2 separate regions of the Homo sapiens genome follow, and region 1 is linked to region 2. The links come from fine-mapping of genetic effects on plasma protein levels. A gene starts in region 2. The other region holds a variant in brackets. All regions are shown on one strand. Distances are from middle to middle.

Region 1 (5,375 bases), 34 kb after region 2:
GTGAGAAGGTTATGGAGTGGATGTGGCCTGGGAGGGGGAACATGCGGGGGACACAGTTCAGCTTCTAGGAAGGCAAATGTGCCAGGAGCCTGGCACACAGTGGGTGTGGCTGACAGAACATGTTCTGTGTGCAGGATGCAGGGTCGGATGGGGTGGTCATCCTTCTCCTGGGAAACAAGATGGACTGTGAGGAGGAACGGCAAGTGTCCGTGGAAGCTGGGCAGCAACTGGCCCAGGTAAGCACTTGGGCATCAGCCCGTCTCTGTGCGTGGACTGGGCAGACACCTCCCTGGCAGGTGGTGGATAGGCATCACCTGACCTGGGCAGCCGAGAAGAACCCGTGGCCCATTCCTGCCCCTGCCCCAACCAAAGGCCTGTTCAGAGTGGACAGCAGCCTAGCCACCTCTGCCTCCCACACAGCCCTGGCCTCTGGAGATGCGCTTTAAGCCCAAACCCAAGGCTGGAGTGGCGGGCGTGACACTGAACCTCACTGTTGAATTAGCACATTCCCACACCATGTCCCCACCTACATAAGAAATAGCTTCAGAGTAAAAAGGTTTTGAAAGCTTTGCTTAAAATTCCCAATCAAATTTTAATTTTATCTCTGGTCTCTAATTAACGTGCTGCCTTCTAAGTTCTCCTATTTTAAGACTCAAATTCTCCCTTGGGATGATTACATCAAAAGCCCCACTGCCAGACAGTGAACACTATCTATTCATGAATGGCATTTAACCACATTCCAGAAAATCTGGAGAGTAATAAAAATAGAGGGAAAAATCACTCCTCGCCCCACCTCTCACACAACCCCTCTTGGCATCTTCCTACTGTATTTCCTTCCTGTTTCTCTTCCCACTTCCCGTAAATTGTGAGGTCATCATTGTGGCTCCTGCTGGAAGGGAATTTTTTTTCTTTCTTTCTTTCTTTTTTTTTTTTTTGAGATGGAATCTTGCTCTGTCACCCAGGCTGGAGTGCAGTGGCACGATCTTGGCTCATTGCAACCTCCGACTCCCGGGTTCAAGCGATTCTCCCACCTCAGCCTCCTTAGTAGCTGGGATTACAGGCATGTGCCACCACGCCCGGCTAATTTTTGTATTTTTAGTAGAGACGGGGTTTCACCATGTTGGCCAGGCTGATCTGGAACTCCTGACCTCAAGGGATCTGCCTACCTCGGGCTCCCAAAGTGCTGGGATTACAGGCGTGAGCCACCATGCTCGGCCTTTTTCTTAAAAGTAGTAACTCATCCCTTTGACATAGTAATTTATCCTCTAGCAATTTATCGTAAGGGAAGACTCAGAAGTAATAATCCCTAAAGGAACACCTAATGGATACCCATGTATAACGTACAATCGAACAGGTTTATATGAGGGTTTTCAAATATTATTTATAAGAACAAACATTTGGCAGCAATTGGTGGTTAAACTGTGGATGTTCATGTGAGAGGTTAGTATTTGCCATTAAGAATCCTGTCTTGGAAAAATATTTAAGGGTGTGGGGGAAATGCTTACAATATAATAGAAAATCATATAAGCAGCTACAAATCTAGATATAGGTTAGGTTGAAACATATGAAATTGCTGATATTTGACTGGAGCTTGCCAAAAATAGCAATTTCGTGTGGTTTAACCTAACTGTACAGGACAGTTAGCCCCCGCCCCGTAAAAGGGTTATATAAAACAGAATGGCAATATCTACCCAAACACTAACAGCAGTGGTTTAGATATTGAGCTGGTACTGTCTTATACTATATCTTCCAATATTCCCCCAATGAAATATTTCTGAAATTAAAAAACATAACTAACATTTATAAAATGTCTCCAGGGGCATTTCTCCAAGTTGGGATGCAGGCTTCCCATGCCACTCCGAAGGCTGTGAAATGTCTCTTCAATGCATTCCTTGACACCTTGGCCAGCCGGGGTGAAGGGACAGTGGGCAAAGGGCTCCAGGCAGGGACCGTGGCCCACGCTGAGATGGGGCTGTCTTGCTCGCCACTGAGGTCAGCTTAGGGATGCATTGGGACTCTGATGGCCGGGACTTTAGTGGCGGGGTATGGCCTGGCCTTTCAGTTGTCTCTCCCAAGGCACATATGTCCCTCCCTGTCTGGCCTGCAGGAACTGGGGGTCTATTTTGGG[G/A]AGTGCAGTGCCGCCTTGGGTCACAACATCCTGGAGCCTGTAGTAAACCTGGCCAGGTAAGTGCTGCCCGCCCCCCGCCGCCCCCACCCCCCCCCTTGCAGAATCCTCTGGGACAGCTCCGGCCCCACTCTTGACTCCCAGGTGGGACAGGAAGGCCCATTCTGAGGAAATGGGTCAGGGAAGCACCTAGTTAAAGACCTGGGCTCACCAGTCTGAGGGGAGAGAGAGCCCTGCACTGAGAGTCTCCTGACTCCAGCTCTGCCCTTCCCGTTCGCTGAATCACTCCCCACAGGCACTTAGGCTCTCTGAGCCTCAGTTTTTTCATTTGCAAAGAGGGCTGAGAAAAGGAGTGTCTCTCTTCTGCTCCCAAACTTCCAGTAGCTTCCATTAAAATCCAAATGCTTTGCAATGGCCTGCAGCATCTCTAGTGCCATCTCCCCCACCCCTACACACACACACATTCACTCACACCCACACACACTCACACTCTTACACACACTCACACTCACACACACACACTTGCCAAGTTCCAGCCACTCAGAGACTCCCTCCCTGATCACCCACCTGCCATCACTATTTTGGATCACAGCCCCTGTTTGTGTCCTTCATGGCCCTTCTTGACACGACACATATTAATGATATATGCATTTATCTGTTTTCTTGTTGTCCAGGAAGGCAGGGCCATGTCTGTTTTGTTCAGCCCCTCTCCCCATACCTGGGACCTAGGTGCTCCATAAATGAATAAAATGAGTAAGGCATGAGGGGAGCTAGATCAGATGAGCACCATCTGGCACACAGTAAATATATCACGAAGAAATGAATGGACTTCTTTTGCTTCCCCAGCCTCCAAGCTCTCTCGGCACTGAGCCGCGCCATGGCCCTCTGCTTGGGATGCACCTCCCCCACCCTTTCTGCTGGCATACCTTGTCCATGGCTCAGTTCGGTCACCATCTCCTTCCTCCCCAGATCCCTCCAGGACCTGGTGTGAAGTCCCTGTGTGCCTCCCCATCATTCCCGGGCTGCAGTCACCCCTTTTCCTGTCTGTCTCTCTCACTACTCAAGGGAGGGAATGGTGGCTTCTTTGTCATAGTCAGAGTCCTGCACAGTGCCTGGCACATAGTAGGCCAGAAAGAGAAGGTCAAAGTCTCAGTGACTCAATTCTTCGGGTCTCATGTGGAATGCAGGGCAGGGGCAGAGCTGTTGTGGGGGTTGTGGGTGCGGCCTCCCACCCCCCAGCTGCACCCATGGGCCCATCCGTGCTGCCCGTAGGAGGTGAGAGAGAGGCCTGATGCCTGGCACTGTCACATAGGTCACTCAGGATGCAAGAAGAAGGCCTGAAGGACTCGCTGGTGAAGGTGGCCCCCAAGAGGCCGCCCAAGAGATTCGGCTGTTGCTCCTGATCACCTGTCCTGTCCTGGGTAGGATGGACACCCATGGGGTTTCCTGTCCCTCAGCTCCTGTCCTTTGTTCCTGGACAGCAACGACACAGAGGACCAGCTTGGAGGTTCAGGAAAACCCTTCTCAACTCAGGACTCGGATCCCAGAGCAGGGCCGCATCACCTCTGCCTTTCACACTCCAAAGGAGGGCTTTGCTGAGTGAACAAGGCTTGAGGGGCAGGGGTATGGCAAAACTCTCCAAACAAAGAAAGTCTAGAAAAACGACTTAAGGAAAATACACCAAAATATTGGCCGCACATCTGTGGGTGTAAAATTTTAGGGAGAATGTGGGGGGGGGGTGTTACTTTCCATTTTACACATATTTGTATTTTCAGATTTTCAACAATAACAGTATTCAATACATAATCAGAAAAAAGAGATGTGGAGGAGGAGGAGAGAAACTTCCCAAGGAGCTCCCTTGGGTGCTGCTGGCTCCTAATTAGTGTAACCTGTTAATCACATGTTGCTCGGTGTTAGAGCGGTCCCTCTGTGCTCTGCTTGGCAGGGCGCTGTTGGCCTGGTCTCCCTCGCTATTTCTATTTGCAAGCATGGGCTTTCTTCCCAGCAGAATCTGGTTCCTGGGAAGAGTAATGTTCCAAAGGCCTCTGATATGCCTCGATGCCCTCCTGTCTTCCAGAGCCCCAACCTCACTCCCTTTCCCCACCATACAAAACACACCTCCCAGGGGTCACATTTGGGGGTCCCGCCCCCTGCTCCAATGCCATGGTGTCCCCAAGCACAGGGCTTTGGCCTGAGTTGTCAGTCTCTGGATGCATTTGAGGGGCAGCTAGGGTGTGGCTGGGGGGTCCAAGCAGCTGGGGAGCCGAGACTCAGAATCATTCACACACTTCTATTTGGAGCTTTTGTGGAAGTTTCCAGAATTCCATAATATTCACCTCCTGAATGGTGGCTGCCCCTTATCAGCTAGGGCTGGGGTTTCCAGTGCCCTCGGAGAGCTTGCTTTAGAGTCTTGGAGAGACGGCCATGGTCTTCGTTTGTATGTCTGTCACATCTTACCATCATCACAAATTGAATATACAACATGTGCCAGGCACTGAATTTGTTTGTTTGTTTTTTGAGACAGGATCTCTCTCTGTTGCGCAGGCTGGAGTACATTGGCATGATCGCCACTCACAACAGCCTCAACTGTCTGGGCTCAAGTGATTCCCCCACCTCAGCCTCCCAAGTAGCTGGGACCATGGGCACATGCCACCACATCCGGCTAATTTTTTAGCTATTTGCAAACACAAGGTCTTGCAATGTTGCTTAGGCTGGTCTCAAACTCCTGGGCTCAAGTGATCCTCCCAATGTGCTGGGATGACAGGCGTGAGCCACCGCCCCCAGCCTGGGTTTGGTATTTTGTAATCCTTCAGGTACTGGGGAATTTCCTGGCTGAATCAATGGAAACCCCAGTTTCATAGGGGGACAAGCAAAGACAGTTCAAGGAACAGAGTTACAGAGAGAGAGAACGAAGGAGAAAGAGGGAGCAACAGAGGGCTGTTGCATCACACAGTCTTAGGCCCTGGCCCCAACCCCTCTTCTCAGTTCTGAAAGGAACGTCTCAGCAGCAGTGAGCCTTCCATCACCAGAGGCGCACAAGAAGACAGGTAATGCTTGGCAAAGGTGAGGTAGAGAAGATCCCAGCATCTGAAGCTGCCAAAGTTGGATTAGATTCCCTTAATGGACCCCATTCAACCTCCAGACTCCATGTGGATGATTCCCATGGTCCAGCTGATTCTTTGTGTGTTTTTGTTTTGTTTTGTTTTGTTTTGTTTTTTTGAGACGGAGTCTCACTCAGTCGCTAGGCTGG
Region 2 (5,375 bases):
TTTACAATCATATATGAATGTGTGTGCTTATCTATTTTTTTCTTTTTTTGAGACAGGGCCTCATTCTGCCGCCCAGGCTGGAGTGCAGTGGTACAATCACGGCTCACTGCAGCCTTGACCTCCAGGGCTCAGGCGATCCTCCCACCTTAGCTTCCCGAGTAGCTGGTACTACAGACATGCGCCACCACGCCTGGCTAATTTTGTTTATTTTTTATAGAGACAAGGTTTCACCTTGTTGCCCAGGCTGGTCTTTAACTCCTGGGCTCAAGCAATCTGCCTGTCTCAGCCTCCAAAAGTGCTAGGATTACAGGTGTGAGCCACCTCACCTGGCCTGTATTAGTCCATTTTCACACTGCTATAGAGAAATACCGGAAACTGGGTAATTTACAAAGGAAAGAGATTTAATTGACTCACAGTTCCATATGGCTGGGGAGGCCTCAGGAGACTTACAATCATGGCGGAAGGTGAGGGGAAGCAAGGACCTTCTTCACATGGCAGCAGGGGAGGAAAGTATATAAGCACAGGAAAAACTGCCATTTATAAAACCATCAGCTCTCTTGAGAATTCACTCACTGTTACGAGAACAGCATGGGGGAAACTGCCCCCATAATCCAATCACTTCCTTCCTTTGACACATAGGGAGTATAATTCAAGATGAGATTTGGGTGAGGACATAAAACTTAACTATATCACGGCCCTTATCTATTGCATATATTTCATACACACACATACACTTTTTTCTTCATAAAAAGCACACTATCCTCACTGTTCTGCACCTTACTTTTTTCATATGACACAATATCTTGAAGGTCATTCCATATCACTCCACCTGGATCTTTCTCATTTTCTTCACGGTGCAGAGTATGCCAATGTTCGGATGTATCAGAGCTCATTTAACCAGCTCCCTACTGATGGAAATTTAGATCATTTCCAATCCTTTGCTACCACAGACAATACTGTAATGAGTATCCTTCCATACTGTCATATTGTATATCATCTGTGGAATCAATGACTGAAAGTGAAATTGCTGGGTAGAAAGATTTTTGCATTTTAAATGTTGACAGATATTATACACTTCTTTTCATAAAAGTTGTACCAGTTTATATTCCTGCCAATAATGTGTGAATGTGTTTCCTACATCCTTTATGACATAATATATCACTTTTTGGATCTTACTAATTGAATAGCTGAAAATGATGTCTCGGTGTAGTTTTATTTTTTATTTTTACCCTCATCTTCTTTGTGATGGTACGTAGTTTTATCTTTTATTTCTCTTATTATATTTTTATAAACAGAAATGTTTACTTTTATAAATATTTTTCATATGTTTAAATCCATTGATATTTATTTTTCCATGAATTGTTTATTCACATATGGTGCCAATTTCTCTAATGCATTATTGGTCTTTCATTGATCTGCAGGAGTTCTTTACAGAGGGAGGAAATTAACTTATTTTCTATGATACGTAAGTATTTTTTCAGAGTTTGCCTTTTGACTTATCAGTGGTGACCTTTTTTTGCCATTCAGTTTTATTTATTTTTAAAAAGTTTCCGTATGGTTGAATGGCTCAATATTTTCTTTTGTGGCTTCTAATGCTTTGTGATATATCTGGAAAGGCCTTGCCTAATCCAAGATTATTTAAAAATTATCCCATGATCTCTTTCTTCCTTTTTTTCTTCTTTCTCTTCTTCTTCTTCTTCTTCCTCCTCCTCCTCCTTCTTCTTCTCCTTCTTTATTATTATTATTTTTTAATGGAGACGGGGTCTCACTATGTTGTCCAGACTGGTCTTGAATTCCTGGGCTCAGGCGATCCTCCTGCCTCAGCCTCTCAGAGTGCTGGGATTACAGGCATGAGCCACCACACCCAGCCTATCCCATGACAGATCTATCTTTCCTTCCTTCCTTCCTCTTTTTTTCTTTCTTTCTTTCTTTCTTTCTTTCTTTCTTTCTTTCTTTCTTTCTTTCTTTCTTTCTTTCTCTTTCTTTCTTTCTTTCTTAGTTTCTTTCTTCTTTCTTTCTTTTTTCTTTCTTCTCTTTCTCTCTCTTTCTTTCTCTCTCTTCTTTCTCTTTCTCTTTCTCTCTCTTCCTTCTTCCTTCCTTCCTCCCTCCCTCCCTCCCTCCCTTCCTTCCCTCCTTCCTTCCTTTTCTTTCCTTCCTTCTTCTGCAACCATGGCAAATGAACTATGCCATGATTTCTTATGGCATTTGTTCAAACATACAGAAAAGCAGAAGAACATAATGAGCCTGCAGTACCCTCATTAACTCCAGCAGGGATCAGAACAGGTCCAGAGCCAGTCTTGTTTCATCTATGTCCTACCTATTCTCCACACTCTTCAATAATTTTGAAGTAAATCCCAAACAACATATAATTATGTGATTTTGATTTTTAAAATGCTTATGTCTTTTATCCATCTGGAATGCTTTTAGAGTTAGAGCTCTTTGTTTTTTGCAGATACCTAGCCCATTCTCCCAACATAGTTTATTGAATAAACCATCTCTTCTCCAATGATTTGAAGTGGTGCCTTTATGATACACTAAATCCCCACAAATATTTGAGTCTATTCCTGTCCCACAAATATTTGAGTCTATTTCATTATTCTGTTCCACTGATTCATCTGTCTATAGTCATGCTCCAATTCCACACTGTTCTGATGGTTGTAGCTCTACAGTGTATTTTGGTATCAGACTAGATTGTTCCCTAAAAGGTGGTTTAGATATAAAGCCTCCCCTGAGGCTCAAAGACACTGTCTGAGAGTGAGGGCCTGAAGTGAGGCAGGATGGGCAGTTCTCCCGGGGCATCCCATACACTTAGCTTCAGCCACGGCTGTGCCCATCAACCTGCTGCTGTCTGGGATAAGGCATTGCCTTGGCAACCAGAGACTGAGGCCCAGTCCTGGCTGTGCCACTAAGGGCTGGGTGATCTTGAGCAGTCCATCTCACTCTTTGGAGCCTCTGCTTAGGAGGGCCTCCCTGCCAGCTCCAGCATTCTCCACTTCAAGACACCAATCAGGGCAGGGATGCCTGGGGGTGCCAGGCAAAATTGTGAAAGGGCCGCCAGTGGTCGCTTCCACAGGAAGTCCTGTAGATGAGCACAGGAGATTGGCTCGCTGGGGAACGGAAAGGGAGATTAAGCAAGACAAGACTGTTAACAGTTCTAGAGCTCGTGGGCTCCGCAGGGCAGCAGTCACCCTACCACCAGGTCCCAGAGCCCAGGGCTGTGTGTTCCACTGGGAGCCTTTGAGAGGTAGGAGCCATCCCAAGGTTGCAATGCTTCTTTTTCTTTGGAAGGATGAGGATGGGGGAGGGAGCTGGGGTCCCTGTTTAACTTCTATGTCAAGGGTGCAAAAGGCAGAGCCCTCTTTTCTCCTGCATTTGGAGCTCTCTGCATGGTCTAAGGGAGGGGATGGGAAAGCACTTGGGCAAGAGGCTGGGGTACATCACTACCCGTAAATGGCTGTGTGACCTAGGGCAAGTCACCTGGTTTCTCAGAGCCTCAGTTTCTCTGTTAGTTAGGAGAGGAGGAGTGAGGATAAGTAGACTGGAACAAGACACTAGGTGGTCTCTCAGGCCCACTGACTTGGACCACTGGGGTTTAGCGACTGTGGCTATTATTTACAGCTATTGAAGCCAGCCAAGTGGAGAGCAGACCCAGTTCTGAGCGCCCTTTGGTGAGACAGTGATGGATACCCGGAGGCCCCAGGCAGGGCCCATGCCAGGTTGTAATCTGCTGCTGCCTGCTGCCCCACCCCACTCTTCTTCTCTGGCTTCCACTTCCTGGTGGGCAGCCTGTGGTGCCTGCTGCCTAACAGAATACCACGGTGGTAGTGGATTCCCGCAGGTGCTTGGGAGTGGGATTCATTTGCTCTCATGTTTGGCTTCAAGTTTTATGCGATTTCTTAGGTGAGGGATGTGGGGAGAGGTGGTCATGCTGAGGGGCTATATGTGTGTCCTAGCCATGAAGGGGTCCCCCACTCTTAAGGACGTGAGGCATGAGGATGCACTAAGGGGAAAGTGGTGGAGGAGAAGGGCGCTGGCAGGGTGGCCCTGCCAGCTGACTCGGAGGGATGTGTGTGCTGGGCGACGGCATTTGCACATGCAGAATGGAATGATGGAATGGCCGTGAGGGGTGCTGTGTCTGACTGAGAGGCTGATGGTGAGGGATTGGAGGGTGAGGATGATGGCCAAGGAGGGTGTGTGTGCGTGCACGTTTGCACGTGTACATTTGTGGATTGACTGAAGGATGTCCTTGCTGTCTCTGAGGGACCAGGCCTGGCCTAGAAGGGACACAGACTGTTTTTAGGTTGTGCTGTCAGGCCGTGGGGGTGCTGTCAGGGATCTGAATGTGAAGGCACGAGGGGTGAGTGCACCATCCCACCTGATGGTGACAAGTGACTGATTTTGAGGTGGCGATGGCTGGAGGGCACCTGCTGCCTTCCTGCCCCAGGCCACCTGTCAGGCAAGGAGCGGGTGGCTGAGTACCCCTCCTGGGAGAGAAGGATTGACTGGCAGAGAGGGCAGATGCTGAGGTGGGGCAGGCGAGGTGTCTGGAAGGTGCTATTTTCTTAAAAAATGCCAGGGGACTGCTGGAAATGGGCTGTGGAGGTGTAGCTTGGCTAGGAACTCCCAGAAAGGAAAGTCAGGAATGCCACATGTCCTAGGATGTGGCTGCAGGGAATTTCTTCCAGGATTCTAACATCCTACACCTGTGGGAGCCCGGCAGGCTGCGATGTGACACTCACATCACAGTGGACTTTGCTTCTGGAGGCTTCTGCACAGGGAATCTTATCTTGCTCCCTTGGCCGTGTTAGCTCCATTGCCGGAAGTACATGAGACATTGGGCGTCACCACAGGAGCCAAGCCTGTCAACGCCCACCCCGTTCCAAAGCCCTTGTCCCACTCAGGGCTACTCCACTGGGTGTTTGTCATCCCCAGAGGGGCCTTCTGCCCAGGGAAGAGCCACCTCTGTAGCCTTGGGGAAGTCCATCCCATGACCAACCAGAAGAGCAGAGTCTGGTGTAGTTCTACCACTGACATCATGGCTGGGGCAGGTCACTCTGCCTCTTGGAACCTCCCTCAGTTTCCTCATCTGTCAAATGGGATCAATTGTATCTGCATGGAACCTGGCTTTTATGTGCCTCAAATAGAATTCACCTTTATCAATATCATCACCACTGTTGTCATTGCTACCTTTACCTGGTAGTCACTGATACCAAGCGCACTCCTAAGTGGCTTTATGTGGATCATATATTCAGCAAATATTTGCAGAGTACCAACTGTGTGCCAAGCGCTGTTCTAGGCTCTTGGGATAGAACAGTGAACAGAATGGTCATCTCCCTACTCACGTGAGGCCTCTATTTCAGCATGAGGAGAAGGAA

Direction of the effects. Alleles are on the strand shown, and positions count from the first base shown. The strength of an association depends on the size of the effect and on how common the allele is.
For the plasma level of the protein whose gene starts at base 3,155 in region 2, allele A in region 1 goes with a lower level than allele G (moderate association).

Evidence for each region. PIP is the chance, under the fine-mapping model, that this variant and not a neighbour inherited with it causes the effect. The UK Biobank Pharma Proteomics Project read protein levels with antibody pairs (Olink). The fine-mapping took linkage between variants from a reference panel, not from the people measured, so its PIPs are less certain.
Region 1: its variant is fine-mapped to the plasma level of the RAB44 protein (UK Biobank, PIP above 0.99). The variant lies in the coding sequence of RAB44. If it changes the protein, the assay may bind it differently, which can mimic a change of level.

The regions. Positions count from the first base shown.
Region 1 is chr6:36,728,566-36,733,940 of GRCh38, forward strand. RAB44 (RAB44, member RAS oncogene family) reads left to right here. Exons shown (of 14, transcript NM_001257357.2): 12 at 135-236; 13 at 2,108-2,184; 14 at 3,438-4,619. The coding sequence ends at 3,528. Among named protein-coding and RNA genes, the nearest start is that of RAB44, 33 kb to the left of the region's middle. The variant G/A (reference allele first, on the strand shown) is at 2,129.
Region 2 is chr6:36,694,672-36,700,046 of GRCh38, forward strand. RAB44 (RAB44, member RAS oncogene family) reads left to right here and starts at 3,155. Exons shown (of 14, transcript NM_001257357.2): 1 at 3,155-3,244.